Linked DNA regions of Homo sapiens: regions 2, 3 and 4 are each reported to be linked to region 1. Evidence: microRNA targets listed by miRTarBase, many of them from high-throughput screens and not tested one by one. Region 1 holds a microRNA gene; each other region holds the end of a gene's coding sequence.

The links. The annotated mature microRNA hsa-miR-548f-3p reads AAAAACUGUAAUUACUUUU and lies in region 1 at 4,870-4,888, opposite strand. An mRNA with a match to its seed (bases 2 to 7 or 8) in the 3' UTR can be bound and repressed. Matches are read on the target gene's strand: a 7mer-m8 pairs with bases 2 to 8, a 7mer-A1 pairs with bases 2 to 7 and ends in A, and an 8mer does both.
Region 2: the mRNA of TRIM13 is a reported target of hsa-miR-548f-3p. Seed matches in the 3' UTR shown: 7mer-m8 at 5,953-5,959, 7mer-A1 at 3,984-3,990, 7mer-m8 at 3,901-3,907 and 8mer at 2,641-2,648.
Region 3: the mRNA of DNTTIP2 is a reported target of hsa-miR-548f-3p. Seed matches in the 3' UTR shown: 7mer-A1 at 5,761-5,767.
Region 4: miRTarBase lists SKA2 as a target of hsa-miR-548f-3p. Seed matches in the 3' UTR shown: 7mer-m8 at 1,195-1,201 and 7mer-m8 at 1,500-1,506.

The regions. Positions count from the first base shown.
Region 1 is chr2:212,421,415-212,428,539 of GRCh38, forward strand. MIR548F2 (microRNA 548f-2) reads right to left here and starts at 4,946; the gene lies at 4,849-4,946. All of the region lies in intron 1 of ERBB4 (erb-b2 receptor tyrosine kinase 4), which reads right to left. LOC124906116 (a long non-coding RNA gene) reads left to right here and starts at 4,077. Exons shown (of 2, transcript XR_007088065.1): 1 at 4,077-4,861; 2 at 4,948-7,125. RefSeq lists an enhancer at 5,578-6,111.
Region 2 is chr13:50,012,016-50,019,140 of GRCh38, reverse strand. TRIM13 (tripartite motif containing 13) reads right to left here. Exons shown (of 2, transcript NM_213590.3): 2 at 674-7,125. The coding sequence ends at 5,977. It overlaps KCNRG (potassium channel regulator), which reads right to left and starts at 3,697. Exons shown (of 2, transcript NM_173605.2): 1 at 3,070-3,697. The coding sequence starts at 3,647. The region is part of intron 10 of DLEU2 (deleted in lymphocytic leukemia 2); the gene reads left to right.
Region 3 is chr1:93,863,692-93,870,816 of GRCh38, forward strand. It overlaps DNTTIP2 (deoxynucleotidyltransferase terminal interacting protein 2), which reads right to left. Exons shown (of 7, transcript NM_014597.5): 6 at 6,992-7,101; 7 at 2,593-6,253. The coding sequence ends at 6,160. Among named protein-coding and RNA genes, the nearest start is that of DNTTIP2, 12 kb to the right of the region's middle.
Region 4 is chr17:59,105,611-59,112,712 of GRCh38, reverse strand. SKA2 (spindle and kinetochore associated complex subunit 2) reads left to right here. Exons shown (of 4, transcript NM_182620.4): 4 at 368-2,856. The coding sequence ends at 436. It overlaps TRIM37 (tripartite motif containing 37), which reads left to right and starts at 5,833. Exons shown (of 24, transcript NM_015294.6): 1 at 5,833-6,272. The coding sequence starts at 6,252. It overlaps LOC124904039 (a long non-coding RNA gene), which reads right to left and starts at 5,617. Exons shown (of 2, transcript XR_007065864.1): 1 at 5,122-5,617. RefSeq lists enhancers at 5,310-5,389, 5,430-5,479, 5,850-5,949, 5,426-6,085, 6,040-6,169 and 2 more and a silencer at 5,610-5,719.

The DNA of each region.
Region 1 (7,125 bases):
CAACAATTCCACAATTTCAATTGACTTAACACTTTTCTTATGTCATCTAGTCTTGTTTTCTATATCTAGTGTCACAAGTAGTACAAAATGTTCAACATATTATAGTATATGAGAAACCACTTTCCTTGGGAGCTGTCATTTTGGGATATTGTCAGTAAGAATGAGGAATTCTCCATCATGCCTGGTTTCTTACACTGTTCAACTGAAAATTAGTGTTTTTCAAAAATGTCTTTAAGAACCACTAAGTGGAAGAAGATGGAAGATTGTCAAAACTATCCACATCACTACACTAGGAAAATTTGAAGACATGAAAAATGGTGTGGTTTTCTGTAGGGTTCTCTGTTTGAAAACACAGAATTCTGACCTGATTGCATAGCTCTGGATAATAATGTATTGGAGTCATCTGTGTAATCAAAAGAGATTAAAAATTCAACCACTAAAGTGAATCAATGTGTTTAGGAATACTGTTGAAAAAGTCTAAATAATTTCAAATGAAAAGTATATTATCTACACAACTCTAATTCAAAGTTTGCATTAAGAAGATATCTAACGAACAAACATGCAGAAAAGAGTTATTACTTCAGGGAAGGCAAATATGATGATGTGGTGTCATAAGGGAAACATGCAGTTTTAAAGATGTCCACAGTGATAATTCACCATTGAAAAGTATCCCAGATTTAGAATCTTGTAATATGACTAAATAGCAGATTTCTAATTGCTCAATGGGATAATACATCATCTGTCCTTAATATTTCCTGAATGCTGGTGAATTGTCACAAAAGCATTCATGATTAAGAAACAACAGGGAAGCCTGGGAGCAGTGGTTCATGCTTTAATCGCAGCACTTTGGGAGGCCAAGGCGGGTGGATAACTGGAGGTCAGTAGCTCGAGACCAGTCTGGCCAACATGCTGAAACCCTGTCTCTACTAAAAATACAAAAATTAGTGGTGGTACATGCCTGTAGTCCCAGCTACTCAGGAGGTTATGGCAGGAGAACTGCTTGAACCCGGGAGGCAGAGGTTGCAGCGAGCTGAGATCATGCCCCTGCACTCCAGGCTGGGCAACGGTGTGAGACTTGGACTCAAAACACACACACACACACACACACACACACGAAGCGGGAAAAATTCTGGTGCTTCGCAAAGTCATCACAATACAAATCAAAATAAATTTGTCTTAAGCCACTTAGACAATACTAACCAACTTTCACCAGGTGTAATCCATGCACAACCAAAACCTTTTACTGTGAGAGCGAAGCTCTTATGGAGTTCTACCTCATCAGTGATCTACCATTATAAGATATAAAAGACTAGTAGATTCTATTCATGAAACCATTTTTCTTGGCTTGGTATTAATTTTGGTAAGAGATGAGTTACCAAGTTAGAAATTAGTGTGGTCCCAAATTAAAACATTAAAAAGAACCACCTAAGGTAAATATAAATATGTGATATAAAATTGTCAAAATGAATCCTTTCAGACCTTACATCATTTTCAATGGGAAGTATATATCAGTCATTGCTAACAGCTGGTTAATATTATGTGAAATACCACAGAGTACAATAGCTTTAAAGAATTTTTTATTCTTAATATATGAATTCTATATTCCATATTTTTAGAAGAAACCAAAATAATAACTTGAGTAAGAGGATAAACGATGAAAAATGTAAAGTAATCTGTGTAAATAAATACTCTGAGTAAAGCTAGTAACATAACCATATCTATGACACTTAAGTATATAGGGTTTAGGTAAGTGAAGGGGGCAAAAAAAAATGCAATTATAAGCAAATTCAGAATGATCAGCATACATAGAGGAACAATTAGTCATATGGGCTGAAAACACGTTACAGTCACCAAACACAGCACAAAGAAAAGCTTTGTAACACAGCCACTATCTTTCTAAAAAGTGACAGCAGAAGATGCCAAAAGCTACAGTGATTATCTGAATCACAGAAAAAAGAGGTGTCACCTTTGAGCTGAAAGAAGACCATGTATAGAGGTTCAACTAGTAATGTCAAGAGTTGGTAACCATTGGCAAAATAACATGCATCTTCAGGGAGAAAATGCCATATTGATCATTTCAGTTCATACTATAAGTAGAAAAGCAGCAACTAAGTATGACACACATGTGCCTTATTTTTATCTACATATAAGTTGTCTGCTGTATAAAGCTTCTGGGTTAGTGTACAAACATATATATGAAAATGATTAAATGTTAATTGCTACCCATATAGCATAATCAAAATAAAAATAATTGTAATACTGCATGCATATCTATTTCTAAAATTCTTTAATTGAAGTCTGTGCATTTGATGCTGTCTCTTGATAGCTTTGTGTTTGTATATTCAAATTTAAGGAAGGTGATACACCATGCAAACAGAACCCTTCATTAAGGTATACTTTCACCTGATGAGAGTAGACACTCACTTGACTTTATGATTTGAATTACTGAACCAATGCTACAGGAGAGTGTGCCTATGGCCCAGATTTTGTACATGAGGTATTTTTTCCCAAATTCCCAAAAGTTTATTATTAAAACCTAAATAACTTTTTGGAATTTTATGTTTAATCATAAGCTTTTAAAAGTAATAAATTCTAAAATACAATCTACAATTATTAATTAATCATAATCATTGGCAATAATGGCTTAATATAAGCTATTTCTTATTAGATGTTGTTTAGCATTTTATCTTAGAATTCATTTTGGTGTCTGAGTCTCCTTGGGGCTAATACAAAGTTGATGTATAGGATACATCAAGTCATCCTATAATCAACTACCTACTTAGCTATTAGAACCTAAGAGACTATCTTTGTTTTACTTTCAAGACTTCAGACTGATGAGTCATTAAATAAATATGTACTGAATGCCTACCTACTCTGTGTCTGGTACTGTGTCTGGACCTTACAATGGTAGGACTTTCCCTGCCACTAGGGAGCCTACAGAATGAGTGAAATTCTGTGCCATTCCTGTTGACTCCCCTTCAAGCTATTCCCCATGCACATATATCCACATATATCCAAAAGAAACAGGTAAAGTCCATCTATGCACATAAAAGCCCACTTATTTTTTCTCCCAATTATAAGAGAACAACTTTTCAAGGCTATATAAAAAAGAGAGCCTTGCTATTTTCTAACACGTATTTTTACAGACAAGTAGTACATAGTATATATACTAAAACTTTGCTAAACAAATCAAGTTGATGTCTTACTGGAGCAATGAATTGACCTCTAATAACAGCTATAGCTCACCTATAGTAATCAGATAAAACTAGATTACCCTGGATTAACAAATTTTTTTTTGTTTTCTTTTTTTGTTTGTTTGTTTGTTTTTGGTGTAGAAGGGGAATGTTGTGAAAGAGAACAGTTGGAAAACCCAAAAATATACAAATCCACAAATACTTAGTTTATGTCTATAAACAAAGAAAAAGCCTTTTACTTATCTTCAGAAATGAAAGTATAAGCACAAAGACAATTGATCAAATTATTAATTGTGGTCTTCTACTGGAGACTATGACCCATGTCATTTTAGTTATACATAAAGAAAAATAATGGTGTAGGTGATACCTAATGTTATCCATGTATCCGTGAAGAAAAAGTACTGCACAGAAATATGAACACAACTAATCAGATTTATCTTTTATATATGACATTTTATAGATGCTAGCAGATTTTTCTAAGCTTTCTTAAAACTGTCATTATAAAATATTTGTAATACTAAAGTCAAGAATTTAATTTAGTATCATGGATCTAATTCATTAACTCTTTTGAAGTAAAAGTAAATCAAATTTTAATAAACTTTAGTCTGACAATATTTGCTCACATTAAAAAAATTATTTAGAACTTTAACATGTGTGATATATAATAAATAACAGATATATATTTTACATATAATATATAATATATATGTGTTGGATAAATATATAAGGATACATATATATGAACATATATGTATATGTATACATATATATGAACATATATGTATATGTATACATATATATGTATATACACACATATGTATCCTTATATATTTATACAATAATCAGTATATTATTACAAAGTAATTGTATATTTCTCCAAAAATAAGGAGGCAGTGGTTATTTAAAACAATAATATCAAAAAGTCTCCTCAAAATAAAACACATCCATATTTTAACATAATTGCAATTTGGTCATATTGGTTATAGTATAAACATAATATTGATTTAGAAGGACACATTTTTCAGATCTTAGGAAAATTACAGGTAACAAATTCATCATTCCTCCATCTCCCTCTTCCCTTCTTGGTTACACTGTATGTATCTTTATCACTTCACTATTTATAAAGTGATCTATCAATGAACAACATCTTTTAAATCACTGTCCTTGCTTCATTCTTTTTCCTAACATTTTCTTGCTAGTTGGTATCCATCATTCTTACCCACATTTGGGGAGATAGAAAAGTTTTTGTATTCCTCATTTTGTTGTACCTATCCACCTAATGCCTTAAAAATCAAATTATTAACATGCAGGATAAGTCACCTAATCATGAGAATTAGCAGCTTTTTGGTTTAATTATAATCATAAACTTTTCTTCTGAATCAATGTTCACGTATTCAATCATTTATCTTCAGAAATGTCTTCTTATATCAAAAATTCAAATCTGAGACTTTATCTCCTTTCACATTTTACAATGTCTGAACTTCTTTATAATCTATTTTAGACTCTAACAACTTTGTAAATATATTACTTGTCATTGTTCTCTACTTTTAAGTTTGAATGTGATATCACTCTTTATAGAAGGCTCCAAGCAAATCTGAGAATAAGTTTTGAATTGATTTAGTTACTTTTTACGTGCATTTATTTCCAAATGCACACTAAAATATTAGGTTGGTGCAAAAGTAATTACAGTTTTTGCCATTAAAAGTAATGATAAAAACTGCAATTATGTTCGCACCAACCTAATAGTTATTAGAAAGATGGTGGTTATACAAATTAGATCTCTTTCGTCACACATTTTCTTCTAAATGTATATTTTCAAGTGTCTTAGTAATTTCTTGCAGCTGAAATAGAGAAGCTGATATTTTTATTAAATAGTTTTCAGAAAACCTCAATCTCTTTATCTCTACCACTGCTCTTTGGCTTTCTCTAAACATACACCTGTATGCACCATAAATATATTTATTGTGAATATGAAAGTTCCTCAAGGTTCCTGCGTGTTTATATCTAACATCACTGATCTATAAGGCATATATTAAACTTTAGTGCTTCTTTAGTAATAATGATGCGCTTGTACCACCACCTATCCACACTCTCACACAATCACCCCTTTTGAAGTAAAGCCTATATTTTAAAAATAACCATTACAGATTGTGAGTGCAGTCTAGGATCACATAGCAGAACTAAAAGCTAACTGGCCCACCCACAAAGTAAATGTGAGACAGAGGGCTCGGGGTAGCCATACTCTAGCCAAGTAGTACTGACAGATACCAATAGATATAATCAAATGTTACACATTTGTGTTTGCAAACGGGATAAATATTTTCCTGACCAATCTATACTTTTGATGATTCAAGCTACAGGATAAGTTTTAAAAATGTCTTTTGCACTTATCTACATTACTTAATAGTATCTTCTTGTCATAGACAACTGTTTTACACCATTTTAGTAGGAAATCAATTTGTCATTCAATTCCATTTTCTAATGCAGTAGTCCAACCCAACCCAGAATGCATTATTGATATGGAAATGAGTGTAATTAGCAGCGTAAATGATCTGTTATTTATGATACAAGTCAGAGCAGTAAATCACCATTGGCTCACTATCATTACTATGCAAATAGAAGAAAGCAGTTAATGGTCCATGTGTTTAAAACAGGCCACTTGCTTGCTCATTTGCAAATGAAAGGCAAGGGTGAGAGTTTAAGGTAGAGATGACAGTTTATCATATTGTCAGTCCTGGTACTTGGACTTAAGAAAACCAAGACACACCAATCATTATGCTAGTTTTAAACGTTATCCCCTTTCTCTACTGTATATTCTGCCTCGAACCTATTCTTACAGCACCTTCAAACTTATTTTGGGTTCCCTGTGATTTGCACATTGGAAGTGGAAATAATTGTGAGAGTGCTTGTAAGTGTTTCGCACTGTATGAGATAGTTTTTATGCCATATGGGAAAAACACAATAAAAATTCACTATTATGAAATAAAATAGCATCACTGGTCATATAATTCACTTCCTTTTCCTACAAATAAATTTTATTTTCTTGTAAGGAGAGAAACTAGCAATAATTTGAGTAGTTAGAGAATAAAGGAAATATTTGTGAGCCTTACTGGAATTTATTCAGTATACCTGAAAGAAATTGGTCTGCCTGTCCTGGTTGCTCTCTTTTCGTTTAATATTCCAGGGAATGTGAGAGCTTGTGGGGAAACGTGAGTGCATTAGCAGCAGGCCAATGCTTGCTTAGTGAAATGGGAACAAAGGCAAGACACATGAAAAGCTAGAGGAAGAAGAGGGATTGAGGGCAAATGCAAATTCTGCAAGCTTCACTTGCATAGATCTGATCATTTTTTAAAGTATTTGACAGACTTTCAGAAATACAGAACTGAGAAAGAATAATAATGTCTTTATATTGAAGGTGTACATAGTAGAAAGGATCTCAATCTCACATAAATTATCTCCATTTTGCAAATATATAAATAAAACTGACAAATCACTTATGAAACCTTATTTTGGTTTGTTGTTATTTTTATTAAGCTATGGATTCAAGAATGACATACAAATTGGGCATGAATTTTATATACAGGAAATGATAATAATATTTAAACAGTAGAAAATACTTTTTCTTATACCAACATTTTTTCTTAAATTATATGTACAGAGTGGTTGGAACAATGCTTTAATTCATCTTTCTTATCAGCTTATGTTTTGTAAATATTATGTTTTTCTTTAATTCCAAGGAAATAGCTAGGCCATTATATTTCCTTGCCTCATTGGTTTTTCCAGAGATAATCTTCCTTCTTGGCTTTTGTTTTTGAAACCTAAACCAGGAAGAAAGATTATATGAGGAATCTGAAAAAGTCAAATTCATAGAACCAAAGGGTGAAATGATAGTTGTCCAGGACTGGAGAGGAGAAAATGGGAAATGGCTAAT
Region 2 (7,125 bases), not on the chromosome of region 1:
AAGAAAAAAATGCACATGAACTTTTCAGATTAGCTATCTGTTGGCTTTAATAATGTCAGCATAGGCTGGGCGTAGTGCCTCATGCCTGTAATCCCAGCATTTTGGGAAGCCGAGGCTGGTGGATCACCTGAGCTCGGGAGTTTGAGACCAGCCTGACCAACATGGTGAAACTCCGTCTCTACTAAAAATACAAAAATTAGCTAGGTGTGGTGGTGCATACCTGTAATCCCAGCTACTCGGGAGGCTGAGGCAGGAGAATCACTTGAACCCCAGAGGCGGAGGTTGTGGTGAGCCGAGATCACGCCATTGCATACCAGCCTGGGCAACAAGAGTGAAACTCCATCTCAATAATAACAATAATGTCAGCATAACACATCTGCATGGATACAGCTTTATGACTCCGTCCTTATCTGCCATCAAAAATGTTTTCATAAAGCTCTTTGTGTCCTCCCACCATTAGTTTATGAGATGTGAAGAAAAAGCTAACTTAGATTAGTTCAGGCAGAAACCTAAACTATCTGTAGTTTTAAGGGATAAAATGATGCTTGGGGACATCCCTAACCTTCTTCTAATGATCATGCTTGAAGTAGAGTGGTTTTTGTAGTTCACATTTAGAAACTCATTCTAAGCAAAGAAACCAATAGTAAAATCTAAGAATTACCAAACTACAAAGCACATCTCAAAAAAAGTTTATTATGTTTGATACAACAGATTCTCAATATTAGCAAATCATTCCACTTACCCCCAAGCGCCAGATCTTGACTGTACAGTCTAAAAACATTTGTCAAAGTGAGAAAAATGTTACAGAACATCTCATAAAAGAATTAAGATACAAATAGTATATACAGATAGTAGATTGTAACAAAGTGGAACGTACTTGCAAGACATCACCTAGCTAAAATACTTGATTCCCTATGAGGACAAACTGAAAAATAAAATATTTCAAGCACACAAAGAAAGGACAAAATAGGGGAAACCAATGGGAAATATAAAGTTTAAACTTATTTTTAACATTTAAAAGCAACTACACTTTTCCATTTGAGCCAGTTCAAAAAGGAGAAGTCAAATAAAGACTTTAGAATCCTGTGACCAACTATAATTTGAGCTTGATAACATGAATGGCATCTGAAAGATGCAAGCCAAGTATTTCTAGTACTGTGACCTTGAGAGATAATAACTGAGCAACCTGCTAGGTTAACCTTGAGGGGTAAATCATATTGATAGAACAAACTGAATAAAGTGAATGATACACCAGACAATTAGGCACCAATTAGGCTCACTTCTCCATTTTCCAAACCTACCAAAAAATATCTGAATAGACAGATAGATTCAGACCAGGGAGTGAGCAAAAAATAAAAATGATTGCTAATTAGGCAATTATATACTAAAAGTGGACCTTTTAAGGCCAGAGTTTTCATCCCAATCACCAGAGATCCCCATAATTTCACCGTATTCAGATTGGCTATCTCTACTTTTAAATTGGCACTGTCTAAAAATTCACAAACATTTATGGAATGGTAAAAATTTTGAGCTTCAAACAATTGAATACCATTTGGTGATGCAAGAAAATGCTAATTTTAAAAATAGCTTCTGATTTTGGAATTATGGAAGTCTAAATATAATGTTTTCTCACTTTAAAATGGAAAAAACTTTCGTGCTGTTTCTAAAACACAACATAAAAAGGGAAAACCATTTGGCACTGTGTACACACAGGAACATCCCAGTTTTAGTTTTTAATCATGTTTTTCAAGGAAACAATTACTTTCTCCAAATGCATGGTTTTTAAAGAGTACTTCGTATTTCCAGGACATCTTCTTTTGACCTAGTGTGTTTCTTCTTAAAAATCAATGACAGTTTTGTCTCTAGGTTTCTGACTTTTTGAAGCATGATCCCCAAAGAGGTCATAATCACTCATATTTTAAAAACCAAAAAAAATTTCATTTTTGTTAAAGTATCCCATCAATGAAAATAAAGTTGTACAGAGGTTTGAGATAAAGATAAGGTATTAGATTTTCTTCACAATCAGCCTACTAGCTTGACTGGCTCTCTTTTCCCAAAATGACATTTCAAACTCTTTTGAAGGACAGGAAGTTATAAAATGTAAACAATTAAGAATTGTCATACTCGGTTATTCTACCTAGTGTCCTCCAGTTGGTAAGCAAGACCAAGGAGTGTGTCGCTAAGAGAGAGAGACACTGGTATCCTTCCTGTTGGCTACTGCTCAAGTTAAGAAAATATCTTAAAATACGCCTACCTTTACCAAAAAAAAAAAAAAAAGTATATTTTAAATGATACCAATAAAGAACACATGCAGGCTTTTCTTTTCCTCCTAAAAATTAAAGCCAGCTTTCACAGTTGGTAAAATAATGGTAGGACAGCATTAAGACATTTTACGGGGGGAAAAATGTTTGTGACAGCAGAGTGGAAATCAGCGTTAGGATCCAGCCAAGAACAACAGAGGGAGTAAGTGAAGAATTGACTCAGGAGCAACTATCCTTAACATACTGACAGCCTATCCCAATATTTTGAGTTGTTTAAGAGCCAAGGCTGTAACAGGATACCAAATTTGCCATGAGATATATCTGTCTTTAAGGGTGTTTAAAAATAAAGTCAGCTGAAGGAAAAACAGTAGTTGAATCATAAAACTGAAAGAACAACTTATATAGTGTGTAAGGAACTCAAGAGAAACCAGTGAGCGAGCCTTTATGTGAACCACTGAAACAATCTCTTAAAAATAAGGCAATTCTTTTCTAAGTCAAATTCATTAGCAATGGAACATAATCTACAAAATTATTTTCTCCCATGATTTGAATGTCCATAGTCTCAGTTTTTTCTGGGCAGTCTTCATTTATTCCTTTTGTCCCACCTAATAATAGCCCCTTTCACTCTAAAAAGTATCCCAGTTTGGAAAATAATTATTTGGTCATTCTACCCAACTCCACTGGTTACCCCAAAACATTATTTTGAATAATCATCTTTTCCAGAAGTTACAGGCCTGAGGAACTTCAAGTTTTTAGAGAAAACATCACAAACTGGTATACAAGAGAAATACTGCAAAGTACAAAATACCTGACTCCAGTTTGGTTATCAGTAGTGCTGTCAGAACCACACTGGAAAACCAGGTCATGGTAAGAAGGTCTTTGTGGAGGCAGTGGAAGTAAGGTCATCTGAGGAGGGAAAAAGTTACCATTCCAGGTCGGCGCTGAAGGTTGTTCTGTAAACACTGTAATCCTCCCTGTTAGCATCTCAATTGTTTTGCTGCAAGAGCCAAACACCCTGAAAAAAGCTTGAGTGTTCCGGCTTAGGAAATGTACCTCCACAAGAGCAGGTCTTGGCTGTAGCAGGTATGGGTTTAAGAGATCAACTAGAGAACGAAGTTCATAGAAAAGAGCCTCTCTCTGAAGCCTAAGATAGTCTGAAAATTCAGTGGGTAATAAAAGCTGGTGAGTTCTCAAAAAATCTAAGATGAAACTAAACAAATCACCATCTCTGTCTACAAAAATCTGGCCACCAACCATCTTGAATTCTTGGTCTCTGCCATCTAACATGCGTGCCAAACGAGAAGCAGGAAACTGCTTTATCGTAGAAAACCTTGTCGTGAATATCTTCCCTCCCACATTCAAAGTGACCAGTTCCTGACTACTCATTCTTCCCTCACTTCAAACTAGAGGCTACCATCAGCCACACTTAGGAAATCAACCTATAACCATAAATGTTGCTAGTTATACATGATTATGCAGTGGAGGGGAGGGAAGAATAACAAAAACCAGACTTAGATTCCCAGGAAACTACTGTAAGGTAAATAGTGTATCCATGGCTGTGTTTGCAAATTCGAGTTGCCTGGGAACTTGCAGTATACAAAATGAAAAAGCAACAGATGAGGAACTAAATAGCTTAAGGAAAACTGCCAATATATCTGAAGATAGACATCAAATAGATCCCTTTCCTGTCTTACATTTAAAAACTTATCCATGAAAACCTAGTAAAACTATATATATATATATATATATATATATATATATATATATATATATATATATATATATTTTTTTTTTTTTTTTTTTTATTACTGGGAGGGGAAAAGCATTCTCCCTCCCCATACCTGTCTACCACGCAGAGGCTAGACTTAAACGTTTTTCTTAATTTCTTATGATCTCCTTAGAAATTTAGTGGCTAAATCATGAATTACATGTTAGGAATGAGACAGCCTGGCAAGCTCAATTTGACTATTCTCATAGCTAGAAGGAAATCATTTCTTCTGTGCTTTAAATTTAGTTGCCACCTTTTATCCTGTCCCCATTTTCATTACCTCCTCTCAACCAAATTAGAGGAGGACTGAGGTAAAGAACTCTTATTTTCAGAAAGTCTATTCCACTTAATGGGCTTTCAAGGAATATCTTACTCTATGACACAAATAAGGCAGACTAGAGAGCAGTTATAAGGTTACTTCTTTGTTATATGAATTCTAAGCAAGGTGTTTATTCCATGAGAGGGTATCTTTATCTCTTGTGAGCAGACAGAACAGCATTAGTGTTCAGCTGATTACTTTGTAATAGCTGACAGACTGTTTTATCTGTTGTCAAATTAGTCTTAACTACACTAAACATTCTTTCTGTAAGCAAGTGGATTGGTTTGGTTGTACACTTGCCATCTTTCGAACAAAACAACACATAGCTGCCAGAAAAAAGGTAGTCTTCCCATTTCCTGCTCTTGCCATGTGTTCTATATATACATATATATGTATATATATGTATGTGTACATATGTGTGTGTGTGTGTGTATATATATATATATATTTTTTTTTTTTTTTTTTTTTTTTTTTTTTTTGGTAGAGACTGGGTCTTGCTATGTTTACGAAGCTGGTTTCGAACTGGAACTCCTAGCCTCAAATAATCCTCCCACATCACTGTCCTAGAATGCTGAGATTATAGACATGAGCCACCCTGCCCAGCCAGCTGATCCTTTTTTTTAACCTATCTATGCTTTTGCTTGCATAGCCACTTAACATTTCTAGTTGATCATCTTTGGTGAAAACTACAAAAACAAAGGAGAAAAGGGCAGATTGAAAGCTCCACTCTCCTAAAAATGTAAACTTATCACAAGAAAATGCCAGGTTTTGTATGTACCATTCACATTTTGGTGATAATTAACTCTCTGTAGAAAATTTTGGAAATCTAATTAATTAGTACCTTCAATACCTTTAGTTGTCTCCCACACACGCGTGTGTGTGTGAAATCTTCTACAATATCTTCCCTTTTTTAGACCATGTTCACTGTCAAAAAGGTGCTTTAAGAGCAGTCTTTGGCTGGGCACGGTGGCTCACACCTGTAATCCCAGCACTTTGGGAGGCCGAGGCAGGCGGATCACGAGGTCAGGAGATCAAGACCATCTTGGCTAACAGGATGGTCTTAAGGGACAGTGAAACCCTGTCTCAACTAAAAATACAAAAAATTAGCTGGGCGTGGTGGCACGCGCCTGTAATCCCAGCTACTCAGGAGGCTAAGGCAGGATAATCACTTGAACCTGGGAGGTAGAGGCTGCAGTGAGCCAAGATTGCATCACTGCACTCCAGCCTGGGCGACAGAGCAAGACTCCATCTCAAAAAAAAAAAAAAAAAAAAAAGTGATCTTTACTGCATGCTTGAAGAACAATCACTACTATACTACCTATACTTCCATCAATACAATATTAGATCATATGATCTCTCACCTATTTTTATCACAGCATAAATACAACCAACATTTGGGGTGGATGCTTATTTCAAAAGCACTCTTTTAAACAAAAAAAGGTTCAGGCCTATACTACTAAATTTCACTTTTATCTTTATGCTACCTAATTTGAACATGTATAGATTATTTTTGGAAGGAATACTTTTGGAGGAAAATATGTGACTAGAATCGTTGACCAAATCTGAATTACCACTCTCTATTCTCTAACAATTTCTAACAAAAGAAAACTGCATACTTGAAACAGATTTTATAATAGTTTATATTTGCACACAAATTCTGCCACATTGTTCAGTACCACCAAAGTAAAATTCTTGAATCTTTCATTGAAAATGAAAAACCCATCTGTCACCTGTTCCCAGTAAAAAACTGATTGTTCTATGAAATCGGCTGTTTTAGTCAGATAGGAACTGAAGTTTGAAAGACAGCCTTTCCAAGTTGCCAGGTCATCAAATAATGACCATTCTAGGAACATGGTAGGACCAAAGACAATGACAAGGCCAAGCAGAAGGATTAGCAAAAATAACTTATAAAAGCTCCAGGGAATCTTGCTAATGAATGTGCCAGTGTCTTGAGGCAAAGAAAGTTTATCCACATCGACTAGTTTTATGTCTTCCCACTGACTGGTATCAAAGTTCTTCATTAAAGGGCTTGCAGGCAAATTAGAGGGAGGTAAAGGAGTTTCCTTGATTACTTTGATTTTCTCTCTAAACTCCTGCATCTGTTGCAGAAATACAATGGGTTCTGACACATCTTTGAAAGCCTCAGCAATGTTAAAGGCCATCCGTTGCTCCTGCAAGATGGTGTTGAGTTTGTTGATCTCTGGGTCATATGCTTGCATAACAGCAAGTTTCATGGTCTCAAAGTCAGACAGAATTTCATTCTTCTTTTGATCCAGTGTGTGTTGTAACTTCTCAAAAAATTCCTTCACTTTATCTGAATCTTTAGTCAGTAACTGTAGGGATTTCCTCTTACTAGTTTCCAAGGTATCCAAGCGAGAAAGAGCATCTCCCCGACGCCAGGTCTCAAAGCTCTGGAAGAGGGACTCAAAGGCATCCCTTTCCTGAGCATAGGCATCTTCAATAGAACAGAAGACATGTTTGGTGTGCTCCCCACGAGTAGCACAGATCCCACAAATCAGCTGCATATCAGTCAGGCAGAAAATGTTGAGAGGCTGCCCCAAGTGTCCTTTGCATACTGGCATTTTGGGAGAGATCTTGATCTTGTTATACTTTTCCACAATACCCTTCAGGGAGTAATTAACCTGCAGGCTATTAATTCCAGTAGCTGAAGTTTCCTTACGGCATGTAGGACACTTGAATGGAGCTGGTCTCCACAAGGAATTCCGCACACTCCCTTCTAAGATACCTTCTAAGCATTTTTTGCAGAAGTTGTGGGA
Region 3 (7,125 bases), not on the chromosome of region 1:
CCTGACAATAAGTGCTATATAGACATTTGTTAAATAGAAATAAGTGGAGTAAAAATAAGCACAGGCAAATAGGAGTATATACATCCGTGTAGAGAATCTGAAAAAGGCTTTCTGAAGCATGTAGACTGTCAGCTCTGTGATGGCTAGGATGACCTCCTTTCCTGTGCACCCCTAGCACCTAGTGTGGTGCCTTACACAGAGGAGATGCTCAAAGTATTGGTTGCTGAATAGGCTTCAGGTCAGTACTATTTTGTTAGGTGAAATGGAGGCAGGAAAGATATTTTAGGTGGAACTAACCATATGAACAAAGACATAAAAGGTGAACCTGTCATGGTACTTGGTGTGCATGGAACTCAGTATATGTTGATTGAATGAATGCTCAGTATCAAGTAGTTTGGTTTGGCTGAAATGTATCAGTCTGGTTTGGACAGAAAAACACATCACTCTAGAGAATTTAATATAGGGAATTGTTCCACAGGTGGCAGAAATGCTGAAAGTGTTGGCAACGCAGATACTGCAACAGTAGGAAACGTCTACCACCTCTAGTGCCAGAGGGACAATGGGAGATGGTGTTACCGGAACCTGGAAGCCTGAGTCATCTGGCTGGTGGGGGCTGGGAGCATGGTGGGGCCACAACCCAAACCAAGGCAGAGGAGAGAAATACCCTGGTTTATTTCCTCTTCATGCCCCTCTGTCTTTTGTCAGTGTCTTACTGTTAAGCCAGTTGGCAAGGGAATCTGGGAAATGTAGTTTCCTGCAATCCAGACACTCCAGAGCAGACCAGAGAAAGGGTGTGAAAAGAGCTGAGAGAGAAATAGGCAAGTAAGTAGCACAAGTGAAGTTTAGGGCATGAGTAGGGAAGCAGTGAATATAAACCTGTGGTGGCGTCATTTTGTGGAGGGGCTTGAATGTCAGGTCTTGAATGTAGGGTTTCTGTATGTGTCATTACGCAGAGGTGAGCCATAGAAGGTAAAATGCAGTATGGCCTCATTAAAACTGTTCAATGGGGAGGTTGGGGGAGAAAAGGGAAACAGTAGCTTCCCTTTGAGTACTTGTTATTTACTAGGCATGGTGCTAGTTTTTATTTAATCATCTCAGAAAAATGATGTGTTTGGTTCCAGATACGTGGAATTTGAGATAACTTACTAGTACTTCATATGGGTAATTTGCACAGTTAATTGGAAATGTGAGTCTGCAACAGAGGGTGGGGGATAGAGATGTAAGGATGGAGACTCTGGTGTCATCTGAAGAGATGAGAGCAGAAGTTGAAGGAGAGGGAGGACAAGATACTCAAGTCAAACAGTATCGAGAAAGAAGATGAGGGCAGGCATTAGGGAAACCAACAATTTAAGTGATGGACAGAGTAAAAAAATAAAGAGTAGGTAGGAGAAGCAGAAAAGCTGATCTTCCTACCGAAGCAGAGTAGCTGAAGCCTCAAGAAGGGGAAGATCAGTGTGTCAGATGACATTGTCTGGTTAGAAGGGATGAAGACTGAGAAAAAAATTGAATATAGCAGTATGTAGGAACAGTTTCTCTAGACTGGTGGGGCCATGAGGAGGTAAGGCAGCCTTCATCAGATGGCCATGGCTGGTTTAGCGGAGGAGGAGTAAGTAGTTTGCTGAGGCTAGGCGTGGAAGTTGGGTTCTGGGAGAATGGAAGTGTCCTGTATCTCCTGCGTGCTCTTTGGGTGTAGAGGCTGCATTAGCTTCCCTGCTGTACCCAAGTGCTTATATAATGCACAGGACTCAATTATTTGTGTTAGCTGACTCGCAGGATGAATGACTGAATTTGGCAGAAAGTATTTAAAATTGAATAAATGGATTGTGGAGTGGCAGTGAAAACCCAGCTGAGTCAATAGCTTCATTATACTTTCCTGAATCTCAATAATCTAGACTGGTAAGAATAAGAATAGTGAGTGTTTCCCTGACTGGGATTGGTGAGGCGAGAGTAACAGAAACCAAAAGACTATTAATAAAGAGACTAGCGGGGCATACAAAGAATTTTTGAAATGTCTGATGAATTGGGTCTAGATTGGTTAGGGAGAAAAATGTATCTTCATGAGGATAGAGGATTCAGAGAATGAGTGGCTGAAAGGCTTGAAATCATGATTTCACAATGTTTGGGGGGTGAGACCCAGGCATCAGCATTTTGAAGCCACCATAGGTAATTCCAAATTGCAGCCAAGGCTAAGTTGGAGACAACTGAAGGGAAGACTAACAGGATAACAGATAACAAGATACAAATTGGGGTAGTCTGAGTTAAGAATCTTGACCACTGAATTCTCAAACAACGAGTCTAAGGCCATGATAGTGATTCGCTAAAGTGAACTGGAAATGAGGGTAACTGGAATTGATAAAATTGAGCTTGAGGAACTACAGGGCCATCTTGATTTGAAGGTATGTCTTGTATGTCCTCCTAGAAATCCTCTATGCACAAACTTACCTAATTTTACATTTCATAGTTCATTGGAGATGTCTCATTTCTCCAGTGATAGAACACTGATCCGCTTATGACATTTAATTATAGGTCATGGTATTGATCCTACTTCTTGGAAGATTTTTCTTCACTTCAAAAACTATGTGACAATGAGAATAATTGCACTTTACATTTTAATTAGACAGATGCTTGGGGAATTGGTTAATTAGAAAGCCCTTTTTGTTGCAACCCTTACTGAAAACTTTCAATAAAGATATTCATCTAATTAAATAGTAAGTACAAATTCCATTAAGTAAACAATTAGGCATTTTTCAATGGTTTGGGATCTATTGTAGGTAATTATTCTGAACAAGTTGTCACTGCCTGAGAGACTGAATACCTGGTACATCTCTCAGAAATGTTAACTTTTTTTTCCCATTATGGTATTTTCTTTAACTTGCTGTTTCTAAGAATGGGATCCTATTAATGTATACCAGTTACTAAGGTTTTGTTGAACTTTTTTATATAGCCTCCCCACTCCCCACTCCTTTTGTGACATCTAGTTATGGGACCCAAAAAAGACATTTTCCCAGGTTTCAGAAGAGGAATATTGGTGTTTCTCTAGAGCAGTTGGTTTATCATACAGCAGAACACTGAACACAGAACTGATTGTGTTGGATGCTAAGAACCTAGCCCAGAGCCCAACTTTATCAACTGTAGTCTTACAGCATCTACTTTGTTTTAAGAACATTTTGGGCCAGACGTGGTGGCTCCTGCCTGTAATCCCAGCACTTTGGGAGGCTGAGGCCGGTGGATCACCTGAGGTCAGAAGTTCAAGACCAGCCTGGCCAACATGGTGAAACCCCGTCTCTACTAAAAATACAAAAATTAGCCGGGTGTGGTGGTGGGTGCCTGTTAATCCCAGGTACTTGGGAGGCTGAGGCAGAATTGCTTGAACCCGGGAGGCGGAGGTTGCAGTGAACCAAGATCATGCCACTACACTCCAGCCTGGGCGACAGAGCGAGAGTCCGTCTCTCAAAAAAAAAAAAAAAAAAAGCATCTTGGAGCCAGATGGTGTATAAATACAGCATTCTTTTCGAAATCTTTCAAGATCTTCTCAGGGGTATCTTGAAGGTCTCTTTCACCAGCACACCTGACTGTGGCAGCCCTTTGGATTCTTTATACTTTTCTGGTATAAAGCCTTCAAATAGTTCCAGTTGGCTGGGCATGGTGGCTCACACCTGTAATCCCAGCACTTTGGGAGGCCGAGGCGGGTGGATCACTTGAGGTAAGGATGGCAAAACCCCATCTCTACTAAAAATACAAAAGTTAGCTGGGCATAATGGCATGCCCAGTAGTCCCAGCTACTTGGCAGGCTGAGGTATGATAATCGCTTGAACTTGGGAGGCGGAGGTTGCAGTGAGCTGAGATGGCACCACTGCACTCCAACCTGGGTGATGGAGTGAGACGTCTCAAAAAAAAAAAAAAAAGTTCCAGTAGGTGAACTGAGTTTAGTGACACAGGCCAAAGTCAGTAAAACCTGTTTCTCAAAAGACTTGCTTATTAAAAAGCAAAACATAACTTCATCCATTATTTAAATATCCAGGTATTTGTAGAAGGCCAGAAGCACTAAAGGATACAATTCTCTCATACTGGGTCCTTATTTTATCCAGTAGAAGGCAAAACATAGTATTCCAGAAACAAAAGTAGTTTTTTTTTAAAATAAAAGAGAACAGACATAGATGCTTCCCTAACTCCAACTATGAATGTTATTGTCAGTTCTGCTATTACTAGCTTTTGACTCCAAGCAGTAAATATGAGATTTTGGACATAGGTATGGGCAGACTGCATGACTAAAACACCAAAAGCAATGGCAACAAAAGGCAAAATTGACAAGTGGGATCTAATTAAACTAAAGAGTTTCTGCACAGCAAAAGAAACTATTATCAGAGTGCACAGGCAATCTACAGAATGGGAGAAAATTTCTGTAATCTATCCATCTGACAAAGGGCTAATATCCAGAATCTACAAAGAACTTAAACAAATTTACAAGAAAAAACCCCATCAAAAAGTGGGTGAAGGATATGAACAGACACTTCTCAAAAGAAGACATTTATGCAGCCAACAAACATGAAAAAACGCTCATTATCACTGCTCATTAGAGAAATGCAAATCAAAACCACAATGAGATACCATCTCATTGCCAGTTAGAATGGCAATCATTAAAAAGTCAGGAAACAACAGATGCTGGAGAGGATATGGAGAACTAGGAACACTTTTACACTGTTGGTGGGAGTGTAAACTAGTTCAACCATTGTGGAAGACAGTGTGGTGATTCCGCAAGGATCTAGGACCAGAAATACCATTTGACCCAGCAATCCCATTACTGGGTATATACCCAAAGGATTATAAATCATTCTACTATAAAGACACATACACAAGTATGTTTACTGTGGCACTGTTCACAATAGAAAAGACTTGGAACCAACCCAAATGCCCATGAATGATAGACTGGATAAAGAAAATGTGGCACATATACACCATGGAATACTATGTGGCCATAAAAAAGCATGAGTTCATGTCCTTTGCAGGGACATGGCTGAAGCTGGAAATCATCTCAGCAAGAACAGAAAACTAACACAAGAACAGAAAACCAAACACTGCATGTTCTTACTCGTAAGTGGGAGGTAAACAATGAGAACACATGGACACAGGGAGGGGAACATCACACACTGGGGCCTGTTGTGGGTGGGGGACTAGGGGAGGGATAGCACTAGGAGAAATACCTAATGTAGATAGGTTGATGGGTGCAGCAAACCACCATGGCACGTGTATACCTATGTAACCTGCATGTTCTACACATGTACCCCAAAACTATTATTAAAAAAAAAAAAGATTTCATATTTGCTGATATCTCAAGGAAGCAGTATGCTGGAAAAATAGAGGTAAAGTGAATAGTAACATAAAGGAAGCTACAACTCACCAAGTATCAACAGAAATGACCAACACTCCTTGGGTGCCAGAAACCAGCTTAGCCAGGGTGCATACTGTACCACTGGAGAAGAGGTAAGCTGGGTTAACTTCGAAGAAACCCTGGCCAACTTAAATTATAGTTTAATCCTGTTTTACTTGGACCACAACACTTAAATCTAGATAAAAACCAATTATTCCTCCCTGTTTCAGTTGCCAAGCAAGGAAAACAGCTCCTCTGCCCAAGCTTTCTAGGTCATATTCTTCATATCTTTGTATCCCAACTTTCTGGATCTGAATTTTATAGCTAACTATAGGGCATTGCCTCTCTACCATCTCCCGTCCCCTACACAGACACACACACACATACACACATAAAACTACCTATTAATTACAATAATGTTTATATATCTTTGATCATTTTTTAAAGTTCTTTGAACATGTTAGCAAACTTTATACTTCCTATCTTTTAATTAAATTTTCTTTAAATAACTAAGCATTGAAAACTTTACAAACCATCAGTTATCTTAAAATGGTTGAGATTTTTTTTCCTTTTTTCCCATAAAGAGTCTACACCAGGGTGGGTCTTTTAGACACCCCTATTTTCTAAGGGCATGTAATCGATTCTCAAATCAACTTTTTCCAAATACAAATTCCTGTATGAACAGGGCCAGTCTATGGTAAATTAATTTAGATGATGGTGTTAGTTTTCCAAACGTCTTTAATAAGTAAATAAAGGAGCAATGTAAAATGTTGCAGTTTGCTTGGTAAATCTTAATTGCGAAATTTCTTCTTCTTTCGGAACTTTTTTCCTGCTGCATTTGCTGCTTTTTCAGCCATGATCTCTGAGTACTTCCTTCGGTTGTATCTGAAAAAGAAAAATCAGAACTTTATGTTTGATATATCAGACATTAGAAGTTAATATAACCTTAGGGTAAAAGTTGGGAATGGAGTGGTGGACAAGACAAGTATAGTCTCTGACCTCATAGCACTTGCTTGCAATCTAGGGAGAAAAAATGGCAACTGTAGTAGGAAGACTTTCCTACTATATGCACTATATCCATCTATCTATCCATATATCCATATATGATCTATATATGCACTATATCCATCCACCAGGCTGTATCAAATGCTTTAAACATTTTTGAGGGATAAAAACACAAAAATCAGGACTAAGCAAAACAAAAAGTCACACTTATCCTGAAAATGCACAGTATGATATATATATTTCTTAGAAGCGACCAATGGTTTTCAAAGTGTGGTCTGTGGAGTAGACCCTTTCAAGGGATTCATTAGGTAAAAACTATTTTCTCAAGAATACTAAGGCATTAATCGCTTTTTTCACCCTCGTTCTCTCATGAGTGTAGTGTTTTCCAGGGGCTACGTGATGTATGTTATCTGCAGAAGCAGGTATGAGCCTCTGTCTTTAGTTAAGCCAGACATTAAAGAGATTTGCACTAAATTATTTTTCATAAAAATATATATTCATGTTAATATGTTATGGGTTATTATAAATGAGTTATTTTTAAATTATTTGAAAATTTATAAGTTTATACATTTTTAAAGCAAAGTATACATATTATAAAATAAATATGAATTCCTTTACCTTCTGAATTCAGAATCAGCCAGCAGTTCTTCCACAATAGTTCTTTTCCTTTGCTTCTTGGGAATTCGTGAATGGTAGAAATCAGCTGGATTGTCAACAATGGTTCCAATCTGTGAACAATTGATTGAAATAAG
Region 4 (7,102 bases), not on the chromosome of region 1:
GGGACTTGAGCATCTGTGGATTTTGTTATCCTGGAATCAATCTCCCACAGATACTGAGGGTTGACTGTACTTTTAGAATATGGCATCCAAACATGACTTCTTTGGTTCTGCTATAATCCTTAAATTGTTTGATTTCTTGGTCTTGTTTCTTCAACTTAATTGCAAGTTCTTTAGAAGCTCAAACATCATAGGACCTTGTATATAAATAGCCAAGTATCTGTTTTTTCCCTTGCCTTTCTAAATCTGTGATTACATACATAGTATAAGCTTAGGGAAACATTTATTGGTGTGACAATGCAGAAGTTAACTAAACTGATTTAAGTCTTTGAAAGTTTTTGAAATAAAGATTTTATCATTTATTTTCTAGCTGTCACCACTGACTAAAGAAGAGAAAACTGCGGCAGAGCAATTCAAATTTCACATGCCAGATTTATGAAGAAATGGACTTGGAAAGGAAATTCTAACAGAGAAGAGCTTAATTCCGGAGAAATTTAGGAAGATGTCTTGTTAACCCTTGATGTCTAGAGATTGGGGGCTGGTGAAGGGGGTTTGGCTTCAATGACTGGATAATGATATCTTTCATGAGAGAGATTATAAGAAGAAGGGCAGATAATATATGAATAAAGTTCAGCCAAAAGGATCAAATGAGAATAAAACGATTTAAATATATGTACACACGCATGCACACACACACTTAGTCTTGTAATTTCAGGCCAGAAATTCTCAACACTATTTTGCATCTGTTTTCTTTTTCTAAGTCATGATAATATAGATGTTCTGGTCTATCATAAAAGAATGTTTATGTACATTTCAGTCATTCGGTATGTGGCTTTGTAAATTAAAGTATAGGCAAAACATTTGTGTTATACATGATATATAATTTCATTTTGTAAATGTTGATTGCACATGTGGTCACATTATTGTTGAGACTGCTTTTATGTGACCTGTAGTCTCCCACAGAACCTAAAGTAATAAGCTGGCTTTTCTGTGATAGCCACGTTTGCGTATTTCTTTCCCTATTTCCCTTGCCTGCTAATGTTGAACAGCATGAACTTGCTTTCTGATGCTGTTTTAGACTGTCCCTGTTGTATCTCAATAATATCTTTGTTTTCCTTCAGCCTTTATTACTATAATTGTTCATTCTACATGAAAGCTAGGAAACTGAAATTAGAAGAGCACTTATCTGCTACTTGCCAGTTTTGCGTGAGTGTGTTATATGTATGTGTCAATTTCCCTTTAAAATAACTATTTATTTTAAAATAACTATTGGCAATAAGGAAACTGTTCAAAGTAGAGGCAGATCTTGATAGAAAGATGTTAATCACAGGGTTGTTTATAATAGCAATATACATACACATTTGGCTAGTACTAGGTGAATAGGAAAATAAATCATGCTGTATGTATACAATAAGAGGTCAAGTTGCCAATAAATTATTACTGTTAATGTTCTGGGAAATGCTGAAACTATGCTAAGTGGGGGAGAGGGAAAGCAGGTATTGCAGTTTTGTAGTGAAGATTGGGCTTTGGAGTCATATCTGAGATGTAAGTAGCAGCTTTTAAATTCTAGCTATGACCCTGTGCAGATCACTTAACTTTTGAGTGTCAGGATGTTTGGAAGGACAAGACAGGAAAGTGTTTTAATACAGGGTTCAGTATTTAGTAAGCCTTCAATAAGTGATATTACATACATGTAATAAAAACTAAGCATTGAAAGGACTAGGAAAAATGCATCAAATGTTAGTTCTGCAGGTTATAGAATTATACTTTTATGTAATTTTAAAATTTCAGTTATGAACATGTTTGTCCATTAACAAACTTATAATAGCTGAAAAACAGGGTTGTGAGAACAGCTTCAGTTAAAATTGTCCTGTCTAGTTTGAATATTTCAAGAACAGAAAGCCTTTTTTTTTTTTTTTTTTTTTTTGAGACGGAGTCTCACTCTGTTGCCCAGGCTGGAATGCAGTGGTACGCTCTCAGCTCACTGCAACCTCCACCTCCCAGGTTCAAGCAGTTCTCTGCCCCACCCTCCCGAGTAGCTGGGATTACAGGCGCCCGCCACCACGCCCGGCTATTTTTTTGTATTTTTAGTAGAGATGGGGCTTCACCATCTTGACCAGGCTGGTCTTTAACTCCTGATGGTGATCCACCCACCTCGGCCTCCCAAAGTGCTGGGATTACAGGCATGAGCTACCGTGCCTGGCCCCCTTTTTTTTAATTACAGAGAAATAAGTTACACCTTAGTATCAGATATTAATTTTCTTCAGTGTTCAGGCAATTAGTATTTAGAAAGCTCTTGTCATGAGATGGCTCTGGGATGTGATGATGATTGTTGGGATTGAAAAAACGGTAGTATCATGGAGAGATCATAATAAATTCTTAGTATTAAAAGTGGTTTTGCTTTCAGTTAGGGAGAAAAATTAGATTGTACTATTTTTCCTCTATGATTTCCTTCAGTTATCTTCCAAATGTTGTTTTTTCCCCACAGCCCCCTTAACATTGTTCTCTATGCACTTCTCAATACATTTTCATTTGTTTCTCAAGCCTCTTTGTGGATGACTCCTAAATATAACTTCTTCCACTAGCTCTAGATCCGTATTTCCAATAAAATCCCCTACCTGAATATTCAAGTTAAACATGTCCAGAATACTTACTGATTTTATTGTTAATAGCCACTATTCTGTTGTCTGGAATTAAAACCTGTATAACTAATTTGCATCCCTTTATCTTCTTAGTCAATAAAACCTACAATCCTCTTTCTAAAATGGTCATAGTATACAACCTCTACATTATCTTCACACCTCCTTAATTTAGATCTTTTGTTTCTCATTTGGATTATAATTGTTTTCTCCTATGTGACTATAGTGTCTTTATGTCTTAAGTTATAAATAATACATGTTTAAGAATTTAAAAATCACAGGCATGGCCGGGCATGGTGGCTCACGCCTGTAATCCCAGCACTTTGGGAGGTCGAGTCGGGCAGATCACAAGGTCAAAAGATGGAGACCATCCTGGCCAACATGGTGAAACCCTGTCTCTACTAAAATTACAAAAATTAGCTGGGTGTGGTGGCACGTGCCTGTAGTCCCAGCTACTCGGGAGGCTGAGGCAGGGGAATCGCTTGAACCCAGGAGGCGGAGGTTGCAGTGAGCTGAGATTGCGCCACTGCACTCCGGCCTGGCGACAGAGTGAGACTCTGTCTCAAAAAAAAAAAAAACAAAAACCCAAAAAAACAAAAAAAAAACAACAACAAAACAGGCATATAAATTATCTAGAGGTAATCTGCAAATAATTGCTTCAGGCATTTCTACATGTATACAAACTAAAAAAAATTTTTTTCAACAAAAGTAGGTTGATACTATGCCTTGTACTGCTGCTGTACTTAGATTTTTTTTCATTTCATTATTTTATTTGAGAGAGGGTCTCGCTCTGTCACCCAGGGTAGAATGCAGTGTTGCTATCATGGCTCACTGCAGCCTCCAGGGCTCAAGCAATCCTCTTGCCTCAGCCTCCCAAGTAGCTGGGACCACAGATGCATGCCACCAACCCCTGCTAATTTTTGTATATTTTGTAGGACTTGGTTTCATTATGTTGCCCAGGCTGGTCTCCAACTCCTGGGCTCAAGAGATCTGCCAGCCTCAGCTTCCCAAAGTCCTGGGATACATGAGCCACTGTGCCCGGTCTTCAATTCTAATATATTTTTGTTATGTCACACATCCACCCTTCTTTTTAACAGCTGTAATCCATTATATGGCTATACCATACTTTTTTTTTTTTTTTAATTTTAGACAGGATCTGGCTGTGTTGCCCAGGCTGGAGTGCAGTGGTGTGATCTTGGATCACTGCAGCCTCAAATTCCTGGGCTCAAGTGATCCTTCCATCTCAGCCTCCAGAGTAGCTGGGACCACAGGTGTGCACCACCATGCCCAGCTAGATATATAGTCATTTTTATCAGTTCCTTAGTGATAGACATTTAAGCTCTATAACAGCAAGTTATACAAATAATATAACAAGTAAGTTGTATAACAGCAAGTTATTTAAGGATATGTATGAAGTTAGGAGATTTTTCTTGTGGGGAGGGCAGCAAGGTCAGCCTTTAAGGGATTCTGATGGAGCAGACCGTTGGCTCTCAAACCCCAGGGCTTGGCAAACGATGTGAGTTTAGCATCTTGCCAACTAAATTATTTATTTTGCTCAAGTTATCCTTTTTGCTTGCAACCAACGGCCTCTAATCAGCTGTACAGGTTTCTAATTGTTCGCTATTATGAATTGGTGCAATAAGTCCTTCGACATTCTTAGGTTCTTCGGCAAACATACAAGAATCTTAACTATTTATCATGTAAGTATTGCAATTTGTCTTATTTGTCTTCTGTACTGCTCCTTGAGAGCAAGGGCCACTTCTCATTACTCTGAATCCCAAGTACAGCATTGCATTTTTTTTTTTTTTTTTTTTGAGACGGAGTTTCACTCTTGTTGCCCAGGTTGGAGTGCAATGGCGCGATCTCGGCTCACCGCAACCTCCGCCTCCTGGGTTCGAGCGATTCTTCTGCCTCAGCCTCCCCAGTAGCTGGGATTACAGGCATGCGCCACCACGCCCGGCTAATTTTGTATTTTTAGTAGAGACGGGGTTTCTCCATGTTGGTCAGGCTGGTCTCGAACTCCCGACCTCAGGTGATTCGCCAGCCTCGGCCTCCCAAAGTGCTGGGATTACAGGTGTGAGCCACCACGCCAGGCCTAGCACTGCATTCTATAAATAATTCTTTTAAGTAAAATTCTCATAATATTAACCATCAACCATTTAAAAATGTACAACTGAGGCCATTTTCGTAAAAATAGCTCCATGTAGGTCAAAGACCACAAATAATTCTTACTGAAAGAATTTTTCAGTCTCAGATTAATCTTTCTAAATTATATCTTGTTCATGACCCAAGTAGTTAAAAAAAATTGTTGCTACCCACCACCTATAAGCCTAAATGCCTGATATTCAAGAACTTATTTCTAGATTATTAGTGATTCTCTACATGTGCACTCTAGGTCGGTTAAGTATAATTAGTTGTTTGCAATAAATACAGGAAAAATTAAATTCAAATTACGAATTTGATATGCCCTCTTTGTCTCACAAACCTTCAATTCTTGCAATCTTTACACATCTGGCAGGAAACTGTAGAAAGCAGATCCCATTTATAGGAAAGATGAATATCGCTGATACCCTTTCAATAGTCCCACGGCGACAACTTAGGCGGCAAGAATGAAGTGTGGGATGTGGGAACGAAGACTTCACAGTGTGTGGTCCCGTCCTCTCACCACCGTAATGAGAAATGACACCTCAGTTTGGAGCCTTCTAACTCGATTAGCTTTGGTAGGTGGAACGCAAGTCCTACAAACCTTAGACTGTTCCTTCCAGAGAGAACCACTAACCATGAACCTTCTGCACCAGGGTTTCTCAAAGTGCGGGCCACAGACCACCTGCTGCCGAATCACACGATGCTGGGTGAAAACGCGGATGGCCTGGGCCCCACCCTGGAATCTCAGAGTCCGAATACTTAACTACGGGTGTGGCTCTGAAGTCTGCGCTTTCCACCAGTACGCCAGGTGGCTCCGTCTTTGGCGCGCAAGTTTGAGAGCCGTGGGGCCCCGCCCTCCGCCAAGGTGGGCGTGGGTGGCGTAGCAGAGCCCCAAGCTCAGGCCGCCTGCGCAGGCTAGGGCCGGAGGCACGCAACCCTGAGGCAGCGAGTCGCCAAGTCTCGTATGCGCCCCGCAACGCGGGAACTAGGCGATCGCTCCACGCTCCTCCCCTCCTTTCCCCTCCCACAGCGTCCTGCGCGCATGCGCTTCGCAGCTTCTCTCGCCGCCGCGCCCCCAGCTGCTCTGGTTACGGTTGGTGTTTGCGAATTCTCTGCGGCACCTTCTTCGCTGAACTCCACCGTCAGTTCCATAGGCGCGCGCCCGCGTCACGTGGGCCGAGGTTCCGGCGCGGCTGCTGGCCGGCGGCTGAGCCGGGAGAAAGGAGCTGCGGCCACCGTTCGCCCTACTTCTGCGCCTCGGGGCGGGCGCGCCGGTAAAAATGGCGAAATGGGGGTAGGCGGCGCTGGACCTGAAGAGATGGGGCGCGCAGGTGGGGCGGTTGTCAGAGCCCCCTGACGTGGGCGCCGGGCTTTTATCGGCGATTTGATCTGGCGACCTCGGGCCGGCGCCTAAGAGGTCAGACTGCGGAGCCTGCGGGTCGCCAGCGGCCCCGCCGAGAGCCGGAGGCAATGGATGAACAGAGCGTGGAGGTGAGGGGGTTGTGAGGGTGGTGGTTAGTCCCCGCCCCCACCCGATGAGCGGTTTTTATTCGGGGAGTCGTGCCCATGTCCTCCCTCCAGTAGGGCACCCCTACCCCGCCCCTGCCGCTGTGGAGAGGGCTGGCCCGGTACCAAGGATGCCGTGCCCATTCTGCAGCGCTCCGGGTGTCTTGTGCTCACTGTTCCGCAGTCAGGTGGTGCGTATCCTGGAGTTTTCAAGGATGTCTTGGCACAGGTACTCATCCCCACCGGGTGTTTGCAAACAGCATCCTTTTCCGACCAAAACTGCAGATTCATCAGATGGATGTACCCTGCCACTCGCCACCAGTCCTTGCGAGTTCTTGAGCTGATCTAAATCTCCTTCCAAATGGATAGTCATCTTTCCCTCTCAGTGGCACATTTTGCAGGCTTCTGCCCTTCCTTCCTAGATTGAATCAGCATATATTATCTCATGTGTAGTTTCCAGAACAAACTCTTCTTTTTATAACTGATTCTTGTAAGCTGTGAGTTAAAATAGTTGGGATATGTAGGATATGTAAGTAAAGGCTAGGAATATATTTTAAAAGATTGTTTATTGAACATAATTGTGTAATCATTATCAAATTTTGAACCTTTCAGATACTGAAATAGGAAATCCTTGCTTTTTAGTAAGGGGTAACTATGTTATGGATATTCCACTTGAAACTAGTCATTCAGTAGTCTTATTGTCCACCCCGTTGCAGGTTACAGAATCTGCATCTCCCAGGTTCTTTCTGGCCCTACAGAGTCATGATGAGATTAATGAGTAATTTTCTCCTTAATTCCTCATATAAAGTATTATA